7 linked regions of the Homo sapiens genome follow. The protein of the gene in region 6 purifies or fractionates together with the protein of the main gene of each other region. This does not show direct contact. Each region holds a gene or a part of one and is shown on either strand. Other genes may lie near its edges. The genes, in order: XPNPEP3, ZNF101, ZNF709, ZNF865, ZNF627, KAZALD1 and ZNF146.

What was found.
Region 1: the proteins of KAZALD1 (region 6) and XPNPEP3 purify together in Homo sapiens (affinity purification with mass spectrometry; one large-scale study listed by BioGRID and IntAct). This does not show direct contact.
Region 2: the proteins of KAZALD1 (region 6) and ZNF101 purify together in Homo sapiens (affinity purification with mass spectrometry; one large-scale study listed by BioGRID and IntAct). This does not show direct contact.
Region 3: the proteins of KAZALD1 (region 6) and ZNF709 purify together in Homo sapiens (affinity purification with mass spectrometry; one large-scale study listed by BioGRID and IntAct). This does not show direct contact.
Region 4: the proteins of KAZALD1 (region 6) and ZNF865 purify together in Homo sapiens (affinity purification with mass spectrometry; one large-scale study listed by BioGRID and IntAct). This does not show direct contact.
Region 5: the proteins of KAZALD1 (region 6) and ZNF627 purify together in Homo sapiens (affinity purification with mass spectrometry; one large-scale study listed by BioGRID and IntAct). This does not show direct contact.
Region 7: the proteins of KAZALD1 (region 6) and ZNF146 purify together in Homo sapiens (affinity purification with mass spectrometry; one large-scale study listed by BioGRID and IntAct). This does not show direct contact.

What each region holds. Positions count from the first base shown.
Region 1 is NC_000022.11:40,863,648-40,867,147, reverse strand, and holds part of XPNPEP3 (xaa-Pro aminopeptidase 3), read right to left. Parts: intron 1-3,500. UniProt on the Homo sapiens protein: Catalyzes the removal of a penultimate prolyl residue from the N-termini of peptides, such as Leu-Pro-Ala. Also shows low activity towards peptides with Ala or Ser at the P1 position.
Region 2 is NC_000019.10:19,671,839-19,675,338, reverse strand, and holds part of ZNF101 (zinc finger protein 101), read right to left. Parts: intron 157-3,500; exon of another isoform or gene 141-156; coding exon of another isoform or gene 39-140; intron 1-38. UniProt on the Homo sapiens protein: May be involved in transcriptional regulation.
Region 3 is NC_000019.10:12,474,817-12,478,316, reverse strand, and holds part of ZNF709 (zinc finger protein 709), read left to right. Parts: intron 1-3,500.
Region 4 is NC_000019.10:55,604,148-55,608,446, reverse strand, and holds the start of ZNF865 (zinc finger protein 865), read right to left. Parts: upstream 2,801-4,299; 5' UTR 2,715-2,800; intron 1-2,714. UniProt on the Homo sapiens protein: May be involved in transcriptional regulation.
Region 5 is NC_000019.10:11,603,983-11,607,482, reverse strand, and holds part of ZNF627 (zinc finger protein 627), read right to left. Parts: intron 3,274-3,500; exon of another isoform or gene 3,119-3,273; intron 1-3,118. UniProt on the Homo sapiens protein: May be involved in transcriptional regulation.
Region 6 is NC_000010.11:101,060,838-101,064,788, reverse strand, and holds the start of KAZALD1 (kazal-type serine protease inhibitor domain-containing protein 1 isoform a precursor), read right to left. Parts: upstream 2,801-3,951; 5' UTR 2,674-2,800; intron 2,248-2,673; 5' UTR 2,197-2,247; coding exon 1,686-2,196; intron 584-1,685; coding exon of another isoform or gene 529-583; coding exon 368-528; intron 289-367; coding exon 141-288; intron 1-140. UniProt on the Homo sapiens protein: Involved in the proliferation of osteoblasts during bone formation and bone regeneration. Promotes matrix assembly.
Region 7 is NC_000019.10:36,235,606-36,239,105, forward strand, and holds the end of ZNF146 (zinc finger protein OZF), read left to right. Parts: exon of another isoform or gene 1-53; 5' UTR 54-835; coding exon 836-1,714; 3' UTR 1,715-3,163; downstream 3,164-3,500.

The sequences.
Region 1 (3,500 bases), on a different chromosome or scaffold from region 6:
ACTCCTTAATTTAGAATACAAAGCCTTCAAAGCTATCTTACCTTCCTAATCTTTTCATCTCCCTCCAGCAGCACTAACCCACTGGTGGAGTAGGCTGCTGTTGCATTGGTGATTTCTCTTTCTCTCCTCCTGCACCTTCTCCACATGCACGCTCGTGCACACGTACTCATGCACACATAGTGTCTTCTGTAATCTCATTAGGCAGTAAAATTTCAGAATATAAAAAGTTAACTGATTCCTTTTTCAATGCTCATATGAAATAATCCTAGCATATTTTGGACCACTCTCAAGCAGAGGGAGCTTAACTTTATTAAATTCAAAGCAAACAAGTAACACTTTAACAGGAGACATAAATTAAGATGTTTATTCCCAGTAAATTTTTAAAAAAGGTCTCAATAGCTTTTTACTTACATTAAACATCTTTTGCCCGAAGTCATATAATTAGTAGCAAAGCTGGTGTGTTAAGTCCTATTTCAAAAATATCCAGTTCATAAGCTTCAAACTCTTTTGCTTAGGAAACTTCATGATTTGGATCCTGCTCCCTTATCTGACCTAATCCTCAAAAAACATTATTGCAGCCACACTAAGCTACTTGAAGAACCCCGGCTAAATCATTCTGCATCATAATAGCATTTGCATTAAAAAATATAGTTCTCTTAGTCTAAAGTGGACACTGCCTGCTTATACGATTACAGAAATTCTAAAAAATACCAGCTCAAACATCACTTACGCAAGAGACTTCTCTTACTCTTCTCACACCTACTGCCTCTGTTCTGCTTGTTTCAGATGTCTTCCCCAACGCTCCTATGATTTCTATTTTAATACCTACTACACTTCACATAATTGCTAATTAGTTTGCCAGTCTACTATGAACAATCTTTGGAAGCAGAGATCACTTGTTATTTGACTTTATTTTCCCAGTGACTTGATTTGAAATGTATTTTGAAGTTAAAAGTCAATGAGTCTGGCTTCTAATTGGACATAAGAAATAAAGAAAAAAGAGGAATTAAGAATAATTCTTGATTTTTGACTTGAACAAGTGAATAAATGGTTGTACCACTACATGCAACAGGAAAGCCTGAGATATTTATTGGAAATAAATTTAATGGAGAGGTCAAAGAGCAATCTTAATTTCAGGGAGAAAAGTGCTAGGCTAGATATATAAATTAGGGTGTTATAAGCACACAGATGGCATCTAAAGCCCTGGGAATGGGTATTACCCAGGGAGACTGAACAAAGCCTGGCACTGTAATATTTTAGTGTGAGAAAGAGCACAGGAGAAAGAAGGAAAACTAGAAGAGTACAGTATTTAGTGCTGGGCATGGTGGCTCATGCTTGTAATCCCAGCACTTTGGGAGGCCGAGGCAGGCAGACAGATCACTTGAGGCCAGGAGTTCGGGACCAGCCTGGCCAACATGGCTAAACCCTGTCTCTACCCGCTGCCCCCCCGCCCCCCACAAAAAAAGAGTGTGGTATTTAGGAAGTTAAAAAACAAGTGTTTTAAGAAGTGGGGAGGACTATGCCAGGCGCAGTGGCTCACACCTGTAATCCCAGCACTTTGGGAGGCCGAGGCAAGTGGATCACCTGAGGTCGGGAGTTCGAGACCAGCCTGACCAACATGGAGAAACCCTGTCTCTACTAAAAATACAAAATTAGCCAGGCATGGTGGCACATGCCTGTAATCCCAGCTACTCGGGAGGCTGAAGCAGGAGAATGGCTTGAACCTGGGAAGTAGAGGTTGCAGTGAGCCGAGATCACACCACTGTACTCTAGCCTGGGCAACGAGAGTGAAACTCCATCTCAAAAAAAAAAAAAAAAAAAAGTGAGGAGGGCTCACAGTGTGGCAAGTGCTTCAAAATACAAGGAAGCCAAAAGGACAACCACTGGATATGGTAACATCAATCACTGGAGACCCTGGCGATTTTAGCAGAGTAAAGAAGACAGAAGACAGATTGGAGTATGCCAAGGAGGGAATAGGATGTAAGAAAGCAAAGACACTGAGACAATACTCTGGATAAGTTTTGTTGTGAAGAGGCAGAGAAAATGGCACAGCGGATGGCTGGGAGGCAAAGGATCAACAAAGAAGGGTATAACTGCAGAAACAAGTGCTCGTATTATAACTTTACACTCCACTGAAATTAGTTTTTTCAAACTATATGAATTTCTTAAGAGCAGAATTTCCTATTTTCTACCTTTTCTCTGTATCATAGTGTCAGAGGCGTTTGAACCAGAGCAACTCCATCTTCAGTAGGGGTTTGGTAAAATAAGGCTAAGACCTACTGGGCTACATTCCCAGTAAGTTAAGGCAGTCTTAATCACAGAATGAAATAGGAAGTCAGCACAAAATGCAGGACACAAAAACCCTGCTAATAAAACAGGTAGGTTATAGTAAAGAAGCTGACCAGCTGGGTGCGGTGGCTCATGCCTGTAATCCCAGCGCTTTGGGAGGCTGAGGCGGGCAGATCACCTGAGGTTGGGAGTTCGAGATCAGCCTGACCAACATGGAGAAACCCCCTCTCTACTAAAAATACAAAATTAGCCGGGCGTGGTGGTGCATGCCTGTAATCCCAGCTACTCAGCGGGCTGAGGCAGGAGAATGGCTTGAACCCGGGAGGTAGATGTTGCAGTGAGCCAAGACCCCACCATTGCACTCCAGCCTGGGCAATAAGAGCGAAACTCCACCTCAAATAATAATAATAGTAACAATAATAATGAAAATAAAATAAGTCCCTGTCAAATTTAGACACTGCGAACATCTTCTCCTAGACTGTCACCTTCCTGTGAGCTTTACCTGTGATGTTCTTAAAAAAAGGAGCTGGCCAAACCCCACTAAAACTAAGATGGCAATGACAGTAACCTCTGATTGTCCTCACTGCTACACTCCCACCAGCACCCCAAGAGTTTACAGATGCCATGGCAACGTCAGGAAGTTACCCTATATGGTCTGAAATGGGGAAGCATGAATAATCCACTTCCTGTTTAGGATATAATCAAGAAATAACCATAAAAATGGGCAACCAGCAGCCCTTGGGGCTGCTCTGCCTATGGAGTAGCCATTCTTTATTCCTTTACTTTCTTAATAAACTTGCTTTTACTTTACTCTGTGGATTCCACTGAAATTCTTTCTTGCACGAGATCCAAGAACCATCTCTTGGGGTCTGGATTGGGACCCCTTTCCGGTAACAGCAGGTTCTCAGTATCTGTTTGTGGAATGCCTAGAACCTAAACTCTTTAAGTCCTAGTCCGAGAAATGCAGTAGAGTGGAATGAGAACTTGAAATTAGACTCAAGTTTAAAAATCAGATTTTTCACTAACAAGCTATGTAGCCTTAGACAAATTACTTTCTCTCTCAGAACGTCTGTTTTCTTATGGGCATAAAATATTTATTTTGCTAGAGTGCTGTGTCAGTTAAATGAGCACTTGCTACAGTGTGACTCAGAGGGTACTCAAATAATTTTCGACATTATTGGTTATTATTTCCAGTGGTAGGCAAATTATAA
Region 2 (3,500 bases), on a different chromosome or scaffold from region 6:
GGTGAAACTCCGTCTCTACTAAAAATACAAAAAATTACCTGGGCATGGTGGTGGACGCCGGTAATCCCAGCTACTTGGGAGGCAGAGGCAGGAGAATCCCATGAACCCGGGAGGCGGAGGTTGCAGTGAGCCGAGATCATGCCATTACACTCCAGCCTGGGCAACAAGAGTGAAACTCCATCTCAAAAAAATAAAATAAATTAAGAAAAATAATAAATTGGCTGGGCGCGGTGGCTCATGCCTGTAACCTCAGCACTTTGGGAGGCAGAGGAGGGTGGATCACAAGGTCAGGAAATTGAGACCATCCTGGCTAACACGGTGAAACCCCGTCTCTACTAAAAACGCAAAAAAGTAGGCTGGCATGGAGGCAGGCACCTGTAGTCCCAGCTACTGGGGAGGTTGAGGCAGGACAATGGCATGAACCTGGGAGGCAGAGGTTGCAGTGAGCCGAGATGGCGCCACTGCACTCCATCCTGGGCGACAAAACGAGACTCCATCTCAAAATAATAATAATAATAATTTTAAAAACCTCAACGAATACAAAACCCAGGACACCAAATAGTTTCACTGCTGAAATCCACCAAAAATTTAAAAAAGAATTGCTATCAATCCTCCTCAAACTCTTCCAAAACTGAAGAGGGGACATTTCCAAACTCCCTCTATGAGGTCAAAATTATGCTGACACCAAAGACAGACACTACAAAAAACAAAACTACAAATGCCCTTTATGAATATCAATGCAAAAAATCCTCAAATAAATGCTAGCAAATCATACCTGACAGCATATTTAAAGGATTATATGACATCATCAAGAGAGATTTATCCGCAAAATGCAAGGATGGTTCAAATATGAAAAACAATGGGGCTGGGTGCGGTGGCTCACGCCTGTAATCCCAGCACTTCGGGAGGTCGAGGCGAGTAGATCACTTGAGGTGAGAAGTTCAAGACCAGCCTGACCAGCATGGTGAAACCCCATCTCTACTAAAAATACACAATCAGCCAGGTGTGGTAGCCCACACCTGTAGTCCCAGCTACTCGAGAGGCTAAGGCAGGAGAATCACTTGAACCCAGGAGGCAGAGGTTGCAGTGAGCTGAGATCACACCATTGTACTCCAGTCTGGGCAACAGAGGTAGACTGTCTCAAGACCAAAAAAGTCAGCTACATTTATATGCACCAAAACTGAATAATGTGAAAAAGAAATTAAGAAAACAATACCACAAACAATAGCACCAAAAAGAATTGAATAGGCCAGGCGCGGTGACTCACATCTGTAATCCCAGCACTTTGGGAGGCAAAGGCAGGTGGATCAAAAGGTTAGGAGTTCAAGACCAGCCTGGCCAAGATGGTGAAACCCCGTCTCTACTAAAAATACAAAAATTAGTCGGGCGCGGTGGCAGGCACCTGTAATCCCAACTACTTGGGAGGCTGAGGCAGGAGAATCGCTTGAACTCAGGAGACAGAGGTTGCAGTGAGCTGAGATCGCACCACTGCACTCCATCCTGGGCAACAAAGCAAGACTCCATCTCAAAATAATAATAATAATAATAATAATTTAAAAAGCCTCAACAAATATAAAACCCAGGACACCAAATAGCCCAGACTGGGCGACAGAGTGAGACTCTGTCTCAAAAAAAAAAAAAAAAAAAAAAAGAATTGAACGCTTAGAAATTACAAAACCAAGAAGTCGAAAGACTACTTGTACACTAAAAACAACAAAATGTTGCTGAATGAAATTAAAGACAAATTGAAAAATATCTTGTGTTCATGTGTTCGAAGACTTTACATTATTTGGCCAGGTGCGGTGGCTCATGCCTGCAACCCTAGCACTTTGGGAGGCCGAGGTGGGTGGATTACAAGGTCAGGAGTTCAAGACCAGCCTGGCTAACATGATGAAACCCTGTCTCTACTGAAAATACAAAAATTAGCCAGGTGTGGTGGCACGTGCCTGTAATCCCAGCTACTCCGGAGACTGAGACAGAAGAACTGCTTGAACCCAGAAGGTGGAGGTTGCAGTGAGCCGAGATCATGCCACTGAACCCCAGCCTCGGCGACAGAGCAAGACTCCAATTCAAAAAAAAAAAAAAAAAAAGCCAGCACATTGGCTCATATCTGTAATCCCACCACTTTGGGAGGCCAAGGCAGGCAAATCACCTGAGGTCAGGAGTTTGAGACCAGCCTGGCCAACATGGTAAAATCCCATCTCTACTAAGAATACAAAAAAAAAAATTAGCCAGGCGTGGTGGCATGCGCTTGTAGTCCCAGCTACTCAGAAGGCTGAGGCAGGAGAATGGCTTGAAACCAGGAAGTGGAGGTTGCAGTGAGTCAAGACCGTGCCACTGCATTCCAGTCTGGGTGATAGAGCAAGACTCTGTGTCAAAGAAAAAAAAAAGACTTTACATTATTTGGAAGGTACTACTACCCAAAATGATCTGCAAATTCAATACAATCCCTATCAAAATCCCATGTCTGGTTTTTTTTGTTTTGTTTTCTTTTTTCAGAAATAAAAATACCAGCCAGTCACAGTGGCTCATGCCTATAATCCCAACACTTTGGGAGGTCGAAGTGGGAGGATTGCCTGAGCTCAGGAGTTTCAGACTGGCCTAGCCAACATGTTGAAACCCCGTGTCTACTAAAAATACAAAAAATTGGCTGGGCGTGGTGGCAGGTGCCTGTAATCCCAGGTACTTGGGAGGCTGAGGCAGGAAAATCGTTTGAACCTGGGAGGCAGAGGTTGCAATGAGCTGAGATCGTGCCACCGCACTCCAGCCTGGGCAACAGAGACCCCCCCCGCCAAAAAAAAAGCCCGTTCTAAAATGCATATAGGGCTGAATGTGATGGTTCACGCCTGTAATCCCAACACTATGGGAGGCCGACGCAGGAGGACCATGAGGTCAGGAGTTCGAGACCAGCCTGGCCAACATGGCGAAACCCTGTCTCTACTAAAGCTAAAAAAAATTAGCTAGGTGTGGTGGAGGGCACCTGTAATCCCAGCTACTCAGGATTCAGCTACCGGGTTCAGCTACCGGGCGTGGGGGAGGGCTGAGGCAGGAGAATCACTTTAGCGGAGGTTGTAGTGAGCCAAGATTGTACCATTGCACTCCAGCCTGGGCAACAGGGCAAGACTTTGTCTCGAAAGTAAAAAAATAAAATAAATAAATTTATAAATATATATATAATCATACATAAAATTTATAAATATATATAATCATACAACTTATAAATATATATATAATCATACATATAATTTATATATATATATATATACACACACACATTTTTTAAGATGGGGGTCTCACTATATTGCCCAGGCTGGACTTGAACTCCTGGGCTAAATCGATTCTCCCGCCTCAGCCTCTCAAGTACCTAGAATTACAGGTGTTTGCCAGTGTTCCTGCCCTCAGTTCATCTTGAATTGCTGTTACAAGCCGTTGAAGTCAATTTTTAGAAAAGAACAAAGCCTACTGAAATTTTTCTTGAAGTCTGAAAATGTCTCGTGAAT
Region 3 (3,500 bases), on a different chromosome or scaffold from region 6:
TGATACTCCTTAAAGTGGTCCTGGGTAGTGTTTCTTGGCCTGGACTTATCTGTGTGTTTTAGAGTGAAGCTGTGACTGCTGCTGACCTGGCATACAAGGTGCTCATGGGAAAGACTACCTGCCAGAGCAGTCATTTTTGAAAAAGAGACAAAAGAGAGGGGGAAAGGCAGCTGTTAGATGGTGGGCCGAGTCCACACTCCTAATAGCACAGGGCTCCCAAGGACCCTTAAGTGTTGCTGCTGTTGCTCTATTGCAGCAAGGATGCTGACCCTCAGGATTATAGGGCACACTCATGTTTCCTCTGCAGCATTGCAAAGGGTTCATTCAAAGCCAGCTTAAGGCCCAGGTGCTTAAACTTTATAAAGCAACCATGAGGGACAGGCCCCTAAGCCTGATAATAGTGATTTGTGGCTCTCTGGAGGGAAAAGAACACCCCTCCCCTGTAGAGAGGATTTTGCTGTCAAAATATATCCAGGGACAAAAACAAAAACAAAACAAACATGTTAGGAAGGAAAGGAACAAAAGAAAAAAATGCTGAAAAAGAGGTCCACAATTTGACCCAATTGGAAATTCCAAATAGACTAAAGGAATTTAGACGGCAAAAAAGATAAAAGAGCCTCTATATCATAGGTTCTGTATTAATTTTAACATCTTATGTAATGTATTAATTAACACACTATAGGATTAGCCAATACAAGGGCTCAAATTATGGTTATACCTGGGAGACCCACTAAAATTTAAGCAAGGTATCCCCTGATAATCTTAAGGGAGTTACTGAATATAAAATAGAAGACAAATAAGTATGTCTCATCTTAGCCATCATAACTGTGCCTAAATTCCCCATGTTCATGGCACCCAGTGTCCTAAAATACGCCAGAATGAACAGGTAAACTCTAAACCAGTGAGTCATAAGTGAAATTTAAATTAAATCTTTGGCACTTACAAACTGGCTTGACAGAATGAGACCCTGTGGAACTTACTCCCCAGTTAAATTAGTTATGATGGCTCAATATAAATTGAACAGGGCCTTGAAGGGTTGAAAAGTATTATGTAAAACTTGTTTAGTGAGGAAGTGATTATTCCCCGTGCTTCTCGTTTTAAAAGTACAGTTTGGCCTTTCTTAAACTTGGAGAGAATGAATGGCAACCCACAATGGATTACCATAACCTTAATGCTGTGGTCCCACCCATTAAGCCCCTATACCAATATCCAACATGGAAATTACTGACACCATCCAGCTGATCTCACAGATTTCACCATCTCACAGGCTAATTATATAACTTTACCTAGTTTCCCAAGGGAACCTCAACAGCCTTGCTGTTGCACAGTCTTTGCAGGCAAAATCTGAACTGCATCCACCTTTCTCTAGAACACAGGTATGATATTACATTAATGACAGCCTTGTCTGAGGACATTGTTTTGGCATTCATTCAGGACACATAAATACTGAAAAAAAAAATAGAGCTTACAAAAAGTCCATTGCCCCATATATAAAATAAGAGACCTTTATGTTTTGGTTAAGTTCCTAAAAACCATTTGGTAAAAGGAGGGCCGCTCCATCCCTGACACTACTATGAAATAGCTATTGTCCCTCTGACTACCCACAGCATCTTCTAGGTTCTTTTGATGTTCTGGAGGCAACATATTCCTTGTTTATAAATTTTACTTAACCACTTTATGCTGTTAATTGCAAATTGGCCCACCTTAAGTGGGTCCCCCTACCGCAAAAGGCTCTAGAGTCTTTTTCATTCTCTTAACACAGAGCTTTCATAGAGAAGGAGCTTTTGCATTTTAATGAAGTCAAACTTACTGATTTATTTTGTATGGATTTTGCTTATATCTAAACATTTGTCACCAAACCCAGGGTCACCTAGATTTTCTTCATTAACTTTTAGTATCCTATAACTTTACTTTTTTTTTTTTTTTTGAGGCAAGTTCTCCCTCTTGCCCAGGCCAGAGTGCAGTAGTGCAATCTTGGCTCACTGCAGCCTCAACCTCCTGGGCTCAAGCACTCCTCCCACTTCAGCCTCCTGAGTAGGTGGGACTACAAGCGTGCACCACCACACCTGGCTAATTTTTGTATTTTTTGTAGAGATGGGGTCCTACTTAGTTGCCCAGGCTGGTCTCAAACTCCTGACTTCAAGCTATCCTCCTGCCATGGCCTCCCAGAGTGCTGGGATTACAGGCATGAGCCACTGCTCCTGGCCTAGATTTTACATTTAGTTCTGTGATCCATTTTGAGCCAGTTTTTGTTTAAGGTGTAACGTCTGTTTCTAGATTTGTGTTTTTTTCATTGTGTTTTGCATGTGGATGTTCAGTTTTTCCAACACTGTTTGTTGAAAAAGGCTATCTTTTTTCATTGAATTGCTGTTGGTCATTTGTTGAAAATCAGATGACTCAGTGAGTCTATACTATACTAATGTGAGTCTGTAAGAAGGCAATTGACTTTTGTATATTAAGATTATATCCTCAACCTCTAGTTTGAGGAGTTTGTTGTGGATTCTTTGAGATTTTCTACTTAGACAATCATGTCACATGCGACAAAGACAGTGATATTTCTTTGTTCCCAATCTATATCTCTTCTCTCCTCTCCTCCCCTCTCCTCTCATTAGTTACACTTTGAGTACAATCTGTTGAGTAGGAGTGGTAAGAGGGGACATCTTTGCCCATTTCCTCATCTTACCAGGAAAGCATCTATTTTCTCACTATTAAATATGATATTAGCTGCAGGTTTCCTATAAATACTGCTTCTCAAAAAGAGGAAAGTCTATCTCCAGTTTCTTATCATAAATGCATGTTGGATTTTGCCCATAGCTTTTTCATTTTTATTTTTCCCACTTACATTTGTGATATTAGTAATTTCTGTTCTCTGTTTTTCAGTTAGCTTAACCATACATTTATCAAATATATTGATCTTTTCAAAGAAACACCTTTGGTTTTGTTTAATTTCTCTTTTTACTATTTCTTCTGTTGTGTGCTTACTTTGGGTTTAATTTGCTCATATTTTCTTGCTTTCCTCATGTAGATGCTTAGATTTTTTTTTTTTTTTTTTTTTTTTTAAGACGGAATCTCACTCTGTTGCCCAGGCTGGAGTACAGTGGTGCGATCTTGGCTCACTGCAACCTCCGCATCCTGGGTTCAAGCGATTCTTCTGCCTCAGCCTCCCAAGTAGCTGGGACTACAGGTGCCCACCACCATGCCCGGCTAATTTTTGTATTTTTAGTAGAAACAGGGTTTTGTCACTTTGGACAGGCTGGTGTCCAACTCCCGACCTCAGGTGATCTGCCTGCCTCAGCCTCCCAAAGTGCTGGGATTACAGGTGTTAGCCACTGTGCCTGGCCAGGATTTACATCTTTTTAATATTCAGTGTCCATTTTACAAGTTATGGTAGCTATAGTCACTTTAAATACTTTCATCTTTTAGCTTTTATACTAGAGTTGAAAGTGATGTTTGTACCACCATTATGTATAAGAATATTCTGGATTTGACTATACTTTTGC
Region 4 (4,299 bases), on a different chromosome or scaffold from region 6:
GCTACTCGGGAGGCTGAGGCAGGAGAATCACTTGAACCCGGGAGGCGGAGGTTGCAGCGAGCTAAGATCACACCACTGCACTCCAGCCTGGGCAACAAGAGCGAAACTCCTTTTCAAAAAAAAAAAAAAAAAAAGCCACAGTCCTTACAATGACCTCCACAGTCTCCTGGCTGCTCTTCCCATGTGCCCACTCTATTCCTGCTGCAGGGCCTTTGCGCTGGCTGTTGCTGTTGCCTGTAATATTCTGACTCTCAGGCAACCATCTCGCTCACCCCTTCACCTCCTCCCCATCTTTGGTCAACTGTCTTCTCAATGAGCCTCTCAGTAACCAATGACCTGTCACCCAGGCCCACATCCTCATCTCCCTAACCCTGCTTCATTTCTCTCCTTACTGCTCAGCATCATTTATAACCTCACATAATCTACTTCTTTGCCTTGATTTTGTTGGTCTCCCCATCCAGATGATCGGCTTCCTGAAGGCAAGGATTTTTATCTCTTGCTCACTGTTCCATCCCCAGGACCTACAACAGTTCCTGGCTTGATACATTTTTGTTTGAAGAAGTGAATGAATGAGGCTAGGAAAGGAGGGAGTGATTTGCTCAAAGCTGTGAACCCTAGTGGAATCCAGGGCTCATCCTCCCAATCACTTCGCTCCTGGGGTTAGGGCGCTGTTAAGAGCAGCCCCCAAGTGGGCCACAGTTGTCCAGGAGAAGGGGAATTTTTACTCTTGTATAACTTTTTGGTGTGTGGCTTTTGGGAGGGACAAGATGACAAGACATAGGAAAATCCTGGGGGAGGCCATCCTGAACCACAGCCCCCCAGGTCTATCTCTTTATCCCGTGATATTCTGAACACGCACATATACTCTTGGTTTTTGTTTTTATTTTTTTTCACTGCAGCCTCGAACTCCTGGGCTCAAGCAGCCCTCCCACCTCAGCCTCCTGAATAGCTGGGGACTACAGGTGCCCACCAACCACACCCAGCTTTTTTTTTTTTTTTTTTTTTTTCCTGTAAAGACAGGGTCTCACTATGTTGCCGAGGTTGGTCTTGAACTCCTGGCCTCCAGCGATCCTCCCACTTTGGCCTTCCCAACTGCTGGGATTACAGGCATGAGCCACCTCGCCTGGCCTGTATTTTGTCTTTTAATCATCTGCCCCCTCAACTAGCATATCCACTCCATGAGGACAGGGATTCTTGTCTATTTTGTTCTCTGTTGTACCCCCAATGTAAAGTAGGTGCTCATTAAACAGTTGTTCAACCAGTGTTTACGAATGAACGTATGAATGAATGAAGAACATTCTGGGCTCGGTAGAGCTGACAAAGGCTAGATAATTTATCCCAGTGCCCTCACCTCCAAAGCCTTTTGAGACCAAAGCTTCCTTCCTCTTGTTCTTGCCTTCAAATCTTCCACTCCACCCTCACCGGCCTCCCCTGCTGCTCCTCCACTCACCGTGCTCACCGCCACTTCAGGGCCTTTGCACTTGTTGTTCTTGCTGCCTGCTCACCCAGATCTTTGCATGGCTAAGCTGCCACTTGTAATTCAGCTTTCACCTCTAAAGTAGTTCATCAGGCTCTCAGAGAACCCACAAAACCCCGTGTATCTTTGTCGACTCGTGTCTGATCAACTAGACTGTGAGACCCCGCACAGTGAGAACACTGTGTGTATCGACCCCCTTCGTGGCTGTATATTATACCCTTCAGCTAGAATAGTGAATATGCGTTCAACGCAGAAGGAATGCCTACGAGAAAAGAAGTCACACCCTAGTGAAGTCCAGGGTCTTCCCTAGGGAGTCCAGGACGATAGCCTGAGAGCTGGGTGAGAAGCTGCAGGTCAGGGCAACAGTTGTTCACGCCATAGGAAGAGGATGAGGCACATTCTGGGAAGGAAGGCTTCACCGCCTCACTGCGGGACACTGTTCTGTGGCAGAAGTAATGAAGACGGGCTGACCGCGATGAGGGTGGGGTGAGAGGAGGTACGGGAGTATGTCATGGGAGCCTGGAGCTAAGCAGGCGGATATTTCTACCTGAGGCGGGAGAGGATGTGAGTGTGAAGGAACTCTAGAGGGAGCTGTGCCGCTGCGATGGGGGGGTGGCTTTGAAAGGGGCATTCTTAAGGGGAATCACTGGAGGACCTGCAGAAGGGAAAAAGGCATTCTTGGTGCTGACCAGAATAGAAAGTATTTTCACACCCACGAAGGGGCGTTCTGCTGGGGAGGGAGGTGGTCAGGGCCATTGGGGGCTGTTGCTGTATGGACAGAGATAACGGGGGACAGTTCTGCTGCAAGGCACTAAGGAAACACTCTGGGGAGAATTATATAGAGGATACTAATAAGAGGGTTCACGAGCAGCTGCCCTACATGGGGAGGGGCAATGCTGATGGCATCTGGAGGCTGACCTGGAGGAAGCAATGACGGGGAGCGCTATGTGGAGGGGATCCTACGAGGAGGTATCATTTGGGGGCCCTGGCAGCCGTTTAGGGGATCGCCACGAATGAAAGCGCTTTGGCAGCCATCCTAGCTGGGGGCGTTCATGGGGGAGCTATCTGCAGTGATCCTACCGGGGAGCAGTGATTGGGGGTCCCTTGGCAAGGGCCCGGCGGGAGCTGCACTGACTTGCTAGGGGTTGGGGGACGTTCTGGGGACCACAGCGGGCCAGGGCGGGGCCCCCCGCCCCCGCTGCACCCGGGCCCCCGGGCCACGCACCCCGTCACTCACCGGCGCCGGGGTCTCCGCCGGGAGGAGGCCGAGGAGGCGGAGGAGGCGCCGCCGCTCCGGGGAGACCCGAGGGCCCGACCGGAAGTGCCGCCCCCTCCCCCCTCCCCGGCAGCCCCGCACCGCCCGCCTGCCCGCCCGCCCGGAAGCGGAAGTCGCGCCCGTTCCCGAGGCGCCGGCGTGGAGGATCGGAAAGAGGAGGCGGTGGCGGGGACCAGGAGGGGGGAAATGCGCTTGCGCACTGACTCGGGGACGCGAGCAGTGAAAGCCCGGGCCGATTCCGGTGGGCGAACTGAGCCAGGTGCGCCTGCGCTTTGAATGCCCGCCTCTTCTACGGGAACCCCGCGACACGCTCTGGGCGTCCGGTTAAGCCACACCTCCGGCTCGGGTCTCACACTGAAGCCCCGCCCCCTGGCCCTGAACCACGCCCATCTCACAGCGTGATTATAAGCCCCCTACTGCCTCAAAGTCTGTCTTCGTCCCCTCGCCCTCATGCAGTTTCTCCTGTTCTTCCCCCTCTCCAAGCTCCCACTCTCTGGAACTTCACCCCTCCCTAGGCCCCGCCCCCTCCATCCAAGCCCCGCCCCTTCACCCCATAGCATTTAAGTTGCACCTCGTGACTTTTGAGTGCCTCCCACCTCTAAAGCATTCTTTTAAATCGGTGGTTGTCAAGGATAGTTGGGAGGCCAGCAGCATCCGGCTGCCTGCTCAGACCATGCGGAATAGAAGCCCTGGGGTTGGGGGTCTAGGGATCCGTGTTTTGAAATACTCTGATTCTGCTGCATGCTGGTCAAGAGCCATGGATTTACCACACTTGACACTGCCCGCTCATATAATCGCTATAATCCCGGCTCCCAACTCAGCCCCATCCCAAACAGCCAAACCCAGACCCATTCAGCCCCTCCTGCTAAGCTTCCACTCTCCCAGGAACTTCCCTTAGATTAAGTACTTCCTTCTCTCCCCATCGCCTCCATAGCAGTCGTGCGCCCCCATCAGCACCTTCTAAGTCCCACCTCCAATACCCTGTTCCCTCAGAGTTTCTCCTTTAAGCCCCGGCCCCCGGCCCTCGGCCCTGAACCACGCCCACCTCAGAGCTGAATTATTATAAGCTCCGCCCCTCACCTTAAAATCCGTTCTCTTGGCCTGGCGTGGTGGCTCACGCCTGTAATCCCAGCACTTTGGGAGGCCAAGGCAGGCGGATTGCTTGAGCACAGGAGTTCAAGACCAGCCTGGGCAATATGGCAAAACCCCGTCTCTACAAAAAAAAAAAATACAAAAATTAGGCTGGACGCGGTGGCTCACGCCTGTAATCCCAGCACTTTGGGAGGCCGAGGCGGGTGGATCACGAGGTCAGGAGGTCAAGACCAGCCTGGCCAAGATGGTGAAACCCCGTCTCTACTAAAATTACAAAAATTAGCCAGGCGTGGTGGCGGGCGCCTGTAATTCCAGCTACTCGGGAGGCTGAGGGAGAGAACTGCTTGAACCCGGGAGGCAGAGGTTGCAGTGAGCCAGATTGCCCCACTGCACTCCAGCCTGGACGACAGCAAGACTCCGTCTCAAAAAAAAAAAATTAGCTAAATATGCTGGC
Region 5 (3,500 bases), on a different chromosome or scaffold from region 6:
AAAGTTTGGAAAAATTGCAGCCTGACAATGGAACAGAAAAAAAAACCCAGCCAGGCGTGGTGGCTCATGCCTGTAATCCAGCACCTTGGGAGGCTGAGGCAGGCGGATAACCTGAGGTCAGGAGTTTGAGAGCAGCCTGAGCAACATAGAGAAACCCCTTCTCTACTAAATATATAGAATTAGCTGGCCGTGGTGGCACATGCCTGTAATCCCAGCTACTCGGGAGGCTGAGGCAGGAGAATCGCTTGATCCTGGGAGGTGGAGGTTGTAGTGAGCCAAGATTGCGCCATTGCACTCCAGCCTGGGCAACAAGAGTGAAACTCTGTCTCAAAAAAAAAGAAAAGAAAAGAAAAACCCATTTTCTGGGGAGAAATTCAAACCAGCTACAGAAATTTGTGAGTAACGAGAAGCCAAATGTTAATCACCAAGACAATGGAGAAAATGTCTCCAGGACACATCACAGACCTTCATGGCAGCCCCTCCCATCACAGGCCTAGAATCCTAAAAGGAAAAAATGGTTGGTTTCCTGGGCCTGGTCCAGGGCCCCTTGCTGTATGCACCCTAGGGACTTGGTTCCCTGTGCCCAGCCACTCCAGCCATTGCTAAAAGGAGGCAAGGTACAATTCGGGTCATGGCTTCGGAGGGTGCAAGCCCCAAGCCACAGCAGCTGCCATGTGGTGTTGGTCCTGTGGGTGCACAGAAGACAAGAATTGAGGTTTGGGAACCTCTGCCGAGATTTCAGAAGATGTACAAAAACGCCTGGGTGTCCAGGCAGAGGTGTGCTACAGGGGCGGAGCCCTCATGGAGAACCTCTGCTAGGGCAGCGCAGAAGAGAAATGTGGGAACTGGAGCCCCCACAGAGAGTCCCCACTGTGGCACTGCCTAGTAGAGCTGTGAGGAGAGGGCCACCATCCGTCCTCAAGAACCCCAGAATGGTCAATCCACTGACAGTTTGCACCACGCACCTGGAAAAGCCACAGACACTCAGTGCCAGCTGTGAAAGCAGCCAGGAGTGGGGGCTGTACCTTGCAAAGCCACAGGGGCAGAGGTGCCCAAGGTTGAGGGAGCCCACCTCTTGCATCAGCATGACCTGGATGTGAGACGTGGAGTCAAAGGAGATTCTTTTTTTCTTTCTTTTTTTTTTTTGAGACAGAGTCTGGCTCTATCACCCAGACTGGAGTGCAGTGGCATGATCTCGGCTCACTGGAACCTCCGCCTTCTGGGATCAAGCAATTCTCCTGCCTCAGCCTCCCGAGTAGCTGGGATTACAGGCGCGTGCCACCATGCCTAATTTTTTGTATTTTTAATACAGACAGGGTTTCACCATGTTAGCCAGGATGGTCTTGATCTCCTGACCTCATGATCCGCTTGCCTCGGCCTCCCAAAGTGCTGGGATTACAGGTGTGAGCCACCGCGCCTGGCCAAGGAGATTATGTCAAAGCTTTAAGATTTAATTACTGCCCTACTGGATTTGGGACTTGCATAGGGCCTCTAGCCCCTTTGTTTTGGCCAATTTCTCCCATTTGGAATGGGTATATTTACCCAATGACTGTATCTAGGAAGTAGCTAACTTGTTTTTGATTTTACAGGCTCATAGGCAGAAGGGACTTGCCTTGTCTCAGATGAGTTTGGACTTGTACTTTTGAGTTAATGCTGGAATGATTTAAGACTTTGGGGGACTGTTGGGAGGGCATGATTGTTTTAAAATGTGAGGATATGAGATTTGGGAGGGGCTGGGGGTGGAATGATATGGTTTGGCTGTGTCCCCACCCAAATCTCCTCTTGTAGTTCCCATAATCCCTGAATGTCATGGGAGAGAGCAAGTGGGAGATAATTTAATCATTGGGGTGGTTACCTCCATGTTGTTCTCATAATAGTGAGTTCTCATGAGATCTGGTTTTATAATGGGCTTCCCCCACCTTTCCCCCACCTTTAGTCTGCACTTCTCCTTGCTGCTGCCATGTGAAGAAGGACATGTTTGCTTCCCTTCCACCATACTTGTAAGTTTCCTGAGGCCTCCCCAGCCATACTGACCTGTCAATGAAATCTCTTTCCTTTATAAATTACCCAGTCTTGGGTATGTCTTTATTAGCAGCATGAAAACAGACTAATACAGAGCCCTGGGAAAAACTAGGCTGAAGAGGCTGGGCACGGTGGCTCATGAGGTCAGGAGTTCAAGACCACCCTGGCCAAGATGGTGAAACCTTGTCTCTACTAAAAATACAAAAAAAAATTAGTCAGGCCTGGTGGTGGGCACCTGTAACCCCAGCTACTTGGGAGGCTGAGGCAGAGAATTGCTTGAACCTGGGAGGCAGAGGTTGCAGTGAGCCATGATCGCACCACTGCACTCCAGCCTGGGTGACAGAGCAAGACTCCATCTCAAAAAAAAAAAAAAAAAAAAAGAAAGAAAGAAAAACTAGGCTGAAGAGGTCTCAAGTACTCCTTCCTTCACCAAACTTGAGTCAAGCTCCTCAGAGCCCTCTTTTTGACTAGGGCTTGGCACTGGCCTGCAGAAGTCAGTTTCAGCAAGAATCCATCTAAGGTAGTTTATAGAGACTCCTCCTACCTTAATATCCAATCAAGTTCTTTTTCTCCCACCTATGAGACCCAACCAAGTTCCATTCTCTCCCTCACCTTGTACATTGGCTATAAATCCAATAATATTCCTGCTGCATTCAAGGCTGAATTCAATCTCCCTCCCCTATTACAGCTGTCATGACTCACTGCAATTGTGCTTAATAAACTTTTCCTTGACATTCTTAACAAGTTTCCAGTGCAATCTCTCTTTAACAGGGAACAAGGCTGTAAACTTGAGACCCTGGTTCATTTATCTGAAATGCATAGGGGATGACAGGCTCCCTCCCACTGGGGATGAAGGAGCTGGGAACCACACATGCCATTCTGCTGGGCCCACCCAAGTCTGAATCCATGGAGGGGGAGGGTGTCCTGAGAGTACCTCCCACCCACAAACCCAAAACACCAGGCTCAGATTTCTCTCTGGATGGCCACTCCCTGTTGTCACCCCATGATCTGGGTGAGATCCAGGATTGCAGGTGCACAACTGCCCAGAGAGAGGTCCAGGAGGTAGACTGCCTCCTACAGTGATGGGACAGGATACCTGGGAGTCCTGGCTGCCAATTCAGCCCCCACCCTGATGGAGTGTGATGGAGGGGACTGAGACTCAGGCTGCTTCTGGATAAGATGCCCCACCAGACACAGGATTTGCAAGTCGTTCTTCCACTTGGTGAATTATCTTTTCAAGTTCTTGGTGTCCTTTGAAGAACAAAAATTACCAATTTTGATGAAGTGTAAACTTTAGTTAGTAACATATTGGCTCACCAATTCTGATCATCATCATATATGATATATTGGTTCATCAATTATATGATATATATGATATCATATTTACGTACTTTGGGAGGCCAGGATGGGAGAATCACTTGAGCCAGGAGTTAGAGATCAGCCTGGACAACATAGTGAGACCCCCATCTACCAAAAAA
Region 6 (3,951 bases):
AGAGGGGCTGTCGGTGCCCACATAGCCCAGTCTGCGGAAGGCTATGCTTGTGTATACAGACACATGGTCTGTTTCTTACACATTCACAACTGGAATCCAGCACCATCCCCCCAACCCCCAGAACTCAGGAATCCCCTTACCAGGTGTGAGCACTGTCAAGCTAGCAGGGGCCTCCACTTGACCCAGGGCATTGCGGCCAAGGCAGCGGTAAGTGCCCTCATCACTGGGACGCACAGCCTGGATCTGCAGCCAGCCAGTCACCTCAAACCTCTGGGGTCCACCCCTAAACTGGAGCCAGGCAAGGAATCAGCAGGGTCCTTCTGGAGGGCCCTGGGCTGCCTGAGGGAAGCCTCTCCCACCAGTCTACCTGCACAGAGATGTGGGGGTCATCCCCTGGCAGCTGGATGTCCAAGCCATCCTTCCTCCACTCGATGGAGGCCATGGGGTAGGCAAACACTTCACAGCCAAAGATCACATCCTGCCCTGTCACATTCCAAGTGTCATATGGATGTGACACGATCTGGGGCCCTGGGGGTGAAGGCGGGAGGTCTGAGAATAGCATGGCCCAGCAAAGGCATCCAGTCTGGCAAAGACATGATACACAAATTTTTGTGGACATGCTTGTGGCAGAACACAATATATGCTGAGGTAAATACACATCCATAAACACACCGTGACACACACAGGTACACACAGATATGGATGCTGGTACACACAAGGGTACCACGCAGACGTGGAGATAGGTATACATGCACATGTGCACATAGAACCTCATGCAGACCCAATGCACAAACAAGCACACACATCTACATTGTAGCTTGGCAGCCACTCTGTCCCTAACTGCTCCCCTGTCCTCATTTCACCCTCCCCAGCCTTTCCTGCGTGCCTGTAATCAAAACCTTCCAGATCCCCCTTCCCCTTTTCTAAACAGGCCCAGTTCCCAAAGGAGGAAAAGCAGCCGTTCCCTCCTCAGTACCCCCTGGGGGAGTCCTGCGGCAAGGCAGAGAACCTGAAGCTGGACTTGTGCGACAGGCAGGAAGCCTGCAGGAGTGGAGGAAATTGCTGGGACCCCCACGGGGTGTTTGTTTTCTGGCTGCCCCAGCCGAGCCAGACGCAGAGCCCGGGCTCAGGAAGTGAAAGTTACTAAAGCTACCAAGGAAAGCTAGAGGCCTGAATGGACCCCAGTCCCCAGGGATAGAGAAAGAACTTCCCGCTCCCCTTCACTAATCCCTAAAAGCAGGAGAAAGCAGAGAGGTGGGGAGACTGGGTGAACAAACTGCTCTAAGAATGAAACGTGATTGCATCTCACAGGAACCCGTCTTGCTGCCTGGACTCCACTGGTCTGGGAAAAGTCGGGGGGGTCTCTGAGCAAACCATAGGTTATGTGCCTGCGCCCTCAGAGGACCTGTCTCTCCCTGCCAGCCAGCTCTGGAGCTTTCACGTGGTTCAGCGAATGCAGCTTGCTGACGAAGCCCGGGACTCCCACTCCACTCCACCCCCCACCCCCACCTTAAGGTGGCAGCTTTTATGAACCAGTAGCGAGAGCAGGGTTTTATACTGGACTCGAGGCCTCTATAGCCTTATCTTTTTTGCTCTGCTGGCCAGAGACCAATGCTGTCAGGGGTCGGGGAGCAGTGCCTCTAGGAAACCTAAGTGCTGGGGTGGGGGCCCCGGGCCATGCGTACCCGATTCGCAGGGCCCCGGGTGTGCCACAGTGAGGTTGGCATCGGGCCGAGCGCGGGCCGCCTCCTGCAGGCGGCAGATCTGGGAGTAGGTGTGACCGTCGGACCCGCAGAGCGGACTCTGCGAACGACAGGCACACAGAGGTTCCGGCACCTCTCCGCGGCTCAGGTCGCCGCCTGTGTCCAGCCGGCACTCAAGCTGCTCGCCGCAGTGCCCGTAGAAGTGAGCACTGGGGTCCAGGTCGCAGAGCTGGCCCTCGAGGTTGGCGCATTCCCAGCAGCAGCCGCACGCGTCGCGCACCCTGCCCGCCAGGCAGCCCCGCGGCGCGGCGCACTCTTCTGGCCGGCAGGGAGCGCAGCCCTCGCCCTCCGCTAGCAGCCGCATCCAGCCGCGCCGCAGGTAATCTGGGCCTGGGGATGGCCTTGCGCCGGTCGGGGGCGGCGTCAGCACCACCAGCAGTAGCAGGAGCACAGGCAGCGCCAAGGCAGCTGCGGGCCGCGGCGGCGGCAGCATGGTTAGCGGGAAGCCCTGCGAGCACTCGGGGCATCAGCGCGTTCGGGCACCCTGCCAGGAAGGGAAGCCAGGTCAGGAGGTCAGAAACAGGGCCTGTGCCGAAAGACCAACCTCACTGCTTCTTGTACCAAAGCATGACACTAGCATCGCCCCCTCCCCTGCTACCAAGTAGCCTCCCCCAACACACAGGCCTAGTGACCCTCTAGGGATTATCCAGTTATGGCAGTTAGCAATCAGTTGGGCTGTTCTTGGGAGGGCTGGGAGTGAAGAGAGGTGAGGAAAGGGTGATAAGGCTCAGGCGCACGCACACCCACCACCAGCACCACTTCCGTGCACCACCCGACTCCGATCCCTGGCCCCTGAGCATCCTTGCCCAAAGAGAATGGGTGGCTCCAGAAGTAAGAAGCTGCTAATGGGGGGTGAGAACTGGGGGGGCTGATGCCGCCTCGCTTATGGCCTGGGGCACAGAGTGCTCACCTAGTGTCCGGAACTAGACCCTTCGCAGCAGCCGTGATTCGAGTCCGAAAGAAAAGGTTATGGAAAGAAAGCAGAGGCGCAGTCAGCCGGGCCCGCCGGCCACCTCTGCTCCGTCCTGAGGACTTCTGAGAGAGCCCACGAACTTGGATTCAGAAAGCAGCTCCTCCGGCCCCCTCTCTCCGCCCCTCGACTTCGCGCACCCGCCTTCCCACTAGTTCTAAGGCTGCCAATTTTATGTAGCCGCATGGGACCCTCCCGGGTCATTTCCCCCAGCCTGGCCCAAAGTCACAATGCGAGCAGAGGAGCCGTAACCAGACACCGAGGCTGGGAGAGAGGAAGGGGGTGAGGACCGGAGGCGGGGAGTGGGGGTAGGAGTTTGGCTGGGAAGCTCAAAGTGTTGGCTGAACGGCTAGGCCCTGTCCCATCTGATTTTACAGTCCCTGGCGTCGGCGAGGGCAGCTGCATAAGGGGGAGGCGGCAGGAGCTCTGGTGCCAAGTCATTTTACGTCGATGTCGGGGCGCTCCTGGAGGGCAGGACCAACCACCTTCGTCTCCCCGCAGCCCAGGGCTGGTTCCCGGGAGCGACCGCAGGCTTGCCCACCCAGCTGCCCCACCAAGGCGCGGACAGACTGGGCGCCTACATCCGCCTTCCCTCATCTGGCCTCCTTCTTCCTCCCCACATCCGGCAGGTGCTGCGACCCGCGGGTGAGCCGGGTGATTCGAGGTCGGAGCCGACCAGCGGCCGCAGGGAGAGGCGGGCTGGCGCCTCCCCGGCGGGCGTCCCTCGGGTCGGGATTACAGGTTACGGTTGCGAGGCTGGCAGGGCCGGAGACACTCGGCCTCGCGGCCGCCACCACCGCCACCGTGGCACTTTGGGCCGGGGGCGGGGAGGAGAGCATTCCTAGGGGCCCGCCAGCCAAACCCGGGTCGGGCAGGCCCCGCCCCGGCCGGCCCCAAGCGGCTCACAGAAGCCTTGGCGCAGTCCAGCTCGCGGGGGGATGGGCGAGGGTGGGGGGCAGAAATAGCAATCTGCAGCCGGCAAGGGGGCGGCACTTAGTCAGGCTCCGCCCACAAGACCCGGCTGCCGTCCCCGCCCGCCTGCGCGGGATCGACTCCGCATGCGCACTGGAGCCTCGGAATACAGCCAGGACTCTCCCGTCGGAATGCGCCCCTAAGTTGGGCCAAGCCCATTCATTCAGGGGCTCCCGAGCCACGTAGGCGCCATCCCTGGCCAGAGGGGTTCTGAGGAGGTGGGCAAGGGCAGACACTCTCTCCCGG
Region 7 (3,500 bases), on a different chromosome or scaffold from region 6:
GCACTTTATGAATTTAACTCCTTTGTGCTATGGTTCTTTGTACTCCATTTTAGAAGAAGCCTGAGAAGATGATGCACAGATAGAGAGGCACCAGGACTTGAGAGGCACCAGGACTTGGGAGGCATGTTGATCCATCTCCAGGAAAGACTGAGAAAAAGAGCGTTGAATATAAGAAAAAATACTTCCTCTGTTCTCAGATCGTATTTGTTTTAAGGCCACACCTTTTTGAAGTTTTCAGTTTGAAACACAACCTGGACTGAAATCATGAGGGAGGTTGTGTAGGAAAGAATCATCAAGGGACTTAGTTGGGAGCTTCTCTACCACAGCTTACTCCTTATGGTATTAACCCCCTTTAAGTGTAAATGTCTTTGGTTTAAAACGTTTGTACCTCATCTGTTACCAGAGTGTTCATACTGGAGAGAAACCCTATGAATTTACTGAATGTGGGGGAACTGTTACTCATATGTTGCATTTCGTCGAACGTGCAAGTCATGCTGAAGAGAAACCCTGTGCTTCTAAGGAGTATTGACAAGCCCTTAGCTAGATGACAATCTCATTGAGAAGCAGAAAATTCATGCTGGAGAGAAACTAGTGAAGGTAGCAATACTTCATTGAATATTAGAAAATTTTTCTAGAGAGAAAGCATTGAATATACTGAGTATGATAACATTTCCTCTCAAACCTTATCCCTTACTCTGCATTTGGGAGATCATACACAGAGAAGCCTTATAAATGTAAGAGATGTGGAAATATCTTCAGCCAAAAGTAAATCCTCACTCATCAAGAAATTTTTACTGGAGAGAAACCTTGTGAATGTGGGAAAGCTTCCATTCAGATGTCACACCTCAGCCAGCAGAGAATTTACAGTGGGGAAAACCCCTTTGCCTGTAAGGTATGTGGAAAAGTCTTCAGCCACAAATCAAACCTCACTGAGCATGAGCATTTTCACACGAGAGAGAAACCTTTTGAATGTAACGAGTGTGGAAAAGCCTTTAGCCAAAAGCAGTATGTCATTAAACATCAGAACACCCATACTGGCGAGAAGCTTTTCGAATGTAATGAATGTGGAAAATCATTTAGCCAGAAGGAAAACCTCCTTACGCACCAGAAAATTCACACTGGAGAAAAACCTTTTGAGTGTAAAGATTGCGGGAAAGCTTTCATTCAGAAGTCAAACCTCATCAGACACCAGAGAACTCACACAGGAGAGAAGCCCTTTGTATGTAAGGAGTGTGGAAAAACCTTCAGTGGCAAATCCAACCTTACTGAGCATGAGAAAATCCATATTGGAGAGAAGCCTTTTAAATGTAGTGAATGTGGAACAGCCTTTGGCCAGAAGAAGTACCTCATAAAACATCAGAACATTCACACTGGAGAGAAACCCTATGAATGTAACGAATGTGGAAAAGCCTTCTCTCAGCGAACATCACTTATTGTACATGTGAGGATTCATTCAGGTGATAAACCTTACGAATGCAATGTTTGTGGAAAAGCCTTCTCTCAGAGCTCATCTCTCACTGTGCATGTGAGAAGCCATACAGGGGAGAAGCCCTATGGTTGTAATGAATGTGGGAAAGCTTTCTCTCAGTTCTCAACCCTTGCTCTGCATTTGAGAATACACACAGGTAAGAAGCCTTATCAGTGCAGTGAATGTGGGAAAGCTTTCAGCCAGAAGTCACACCACATTAGACACCAGAAAATTCATACTCACTAAAAACCCCATGAAAGCCTTGAAAGTGGGAAAGCTTTCATTAGAAATTTGCACCTCATCATGCCCCAGAAATAATCCTTCTGAAGCAAAGCACCACGAATGAGGTTAACTTTAACAAGTACTAAAAACTTAAGGGACACCAGAAAATTTGTACTGAAGAGAAAGACATGCATATGATTAAAACCCTGTGTCCAACAGAGAAACCTGCAGCAGAGATAATGGTGAAAGTTTAGGCACATTTTCACTAAAAGTGGGAACAGAAAATGGAGGCCTGTTTTTTATTGCTACCACCATAGATCTGGAGATCTTCGCCAGTAACAAGAAAAATTAAGTTGTAAATATTGGAAAGGAACAGACAAAAATAGATGACATGGTCATCTACAACTAATATTAAGACTCCTGTGGTATTGATTGAGCAGAGCAGAAGAGATTTCAAAAAAAGACCTATGCATTTATTAGAATTTGGAATATGATACAAGTGGCATCAGGAAATGAGGAAATAATGGAACTATTTTTTTTAAGTGGAGGTAGTTTGTTCTCCAAGGGGGAAAAATAGACCATGAACTATACACAAAAGTGAATCCAGAGATTAAAAACAGAAATATGGAAAAGCTATGTACTAAAATGCATATGACCTTGGGAATAGGGAAACATTCCTTGGAACAATTTGAGAAATACTTAGCGGTTCTACTTATGAGTATGAATGCTCAGGAAATACGCACTAGGATATTTACTGTGGCTTGATTTGTAGTAGCCAAAAATTAGAAACAACTGAGAAAGCCCATCACGAACAATATGGGAAATTCTTATGTAATACTATATATCTGTAAAATGCAACAAATGAAATCCACATGTATTAACAGAAAGATCCCAGAATTGTTGAGGGGGGATCAAGTTGCAGAATGATACAGATAGTACAATGACTTTTTTGTAAATTTGAATTAAAAGTTTCCTCATAAAACTCAGTACTATCTATTGGTAATGGATGCATATATGTATGTACATGTTTTTGAAACGGATTGGAAGGATACAGACCAAACTCTTGATAGTGGTCACCTGTGAAGAGTGGAGAAGGGAAAATAATGAGTGTGGGAGGTGGGATGGGTATTGGTTAAAGGGGACTTCAGCTTTTTATATAAACATCCACTTCTCTTTCAAAAGACTTCAAGTAAATATAAGAAGATACTGATTGATTCTGGATTGTGGTATAGGGATATCTTGTCTTATTTTTTGTACTTTTCTGTATTTTTAAAATTTCTCAAAATAGGAATGGGAGTGAGGATGGGAATGCTGTATCTGTGGAAGTCATGTTATACTGGATTCATTTCCAATTAAATACTAAACATTTTATAGAAAATATTTCTAAAATTTTATCACGGATGAATGGATGGACTTGCTCTCTATGTAATATGAAATTAATCTATTTTATTAAAATTTAAAAGGACAGCACAATCCAAATCTGTTTTAATTATTTTAACATGGCATACACACTATATCGGGGTCCCCAGCTCCCCCCAGCTGCATGGCAGGAGGTGAGTGGCGGGTGAGCGAGCATTGCCACCTGAGCTCCACCTCCTGCCAGATCAGCGGTGGCATTAGTTCTCATAGGAGCGCGAACCCTATTGGGAACTGTGCATGTGAGGAATCCAGGTTGTGCGCTTCTTATGAGAATGTAACGCCTGATGATCTGAGGTGGAACAGTTTCATCCTGAAAACATCCCATCCCCATTCTTCTACCCCCACAAACCGTCCGTGGAAAAATTGTCTTCCATGAAACAGGTCCCTGGTA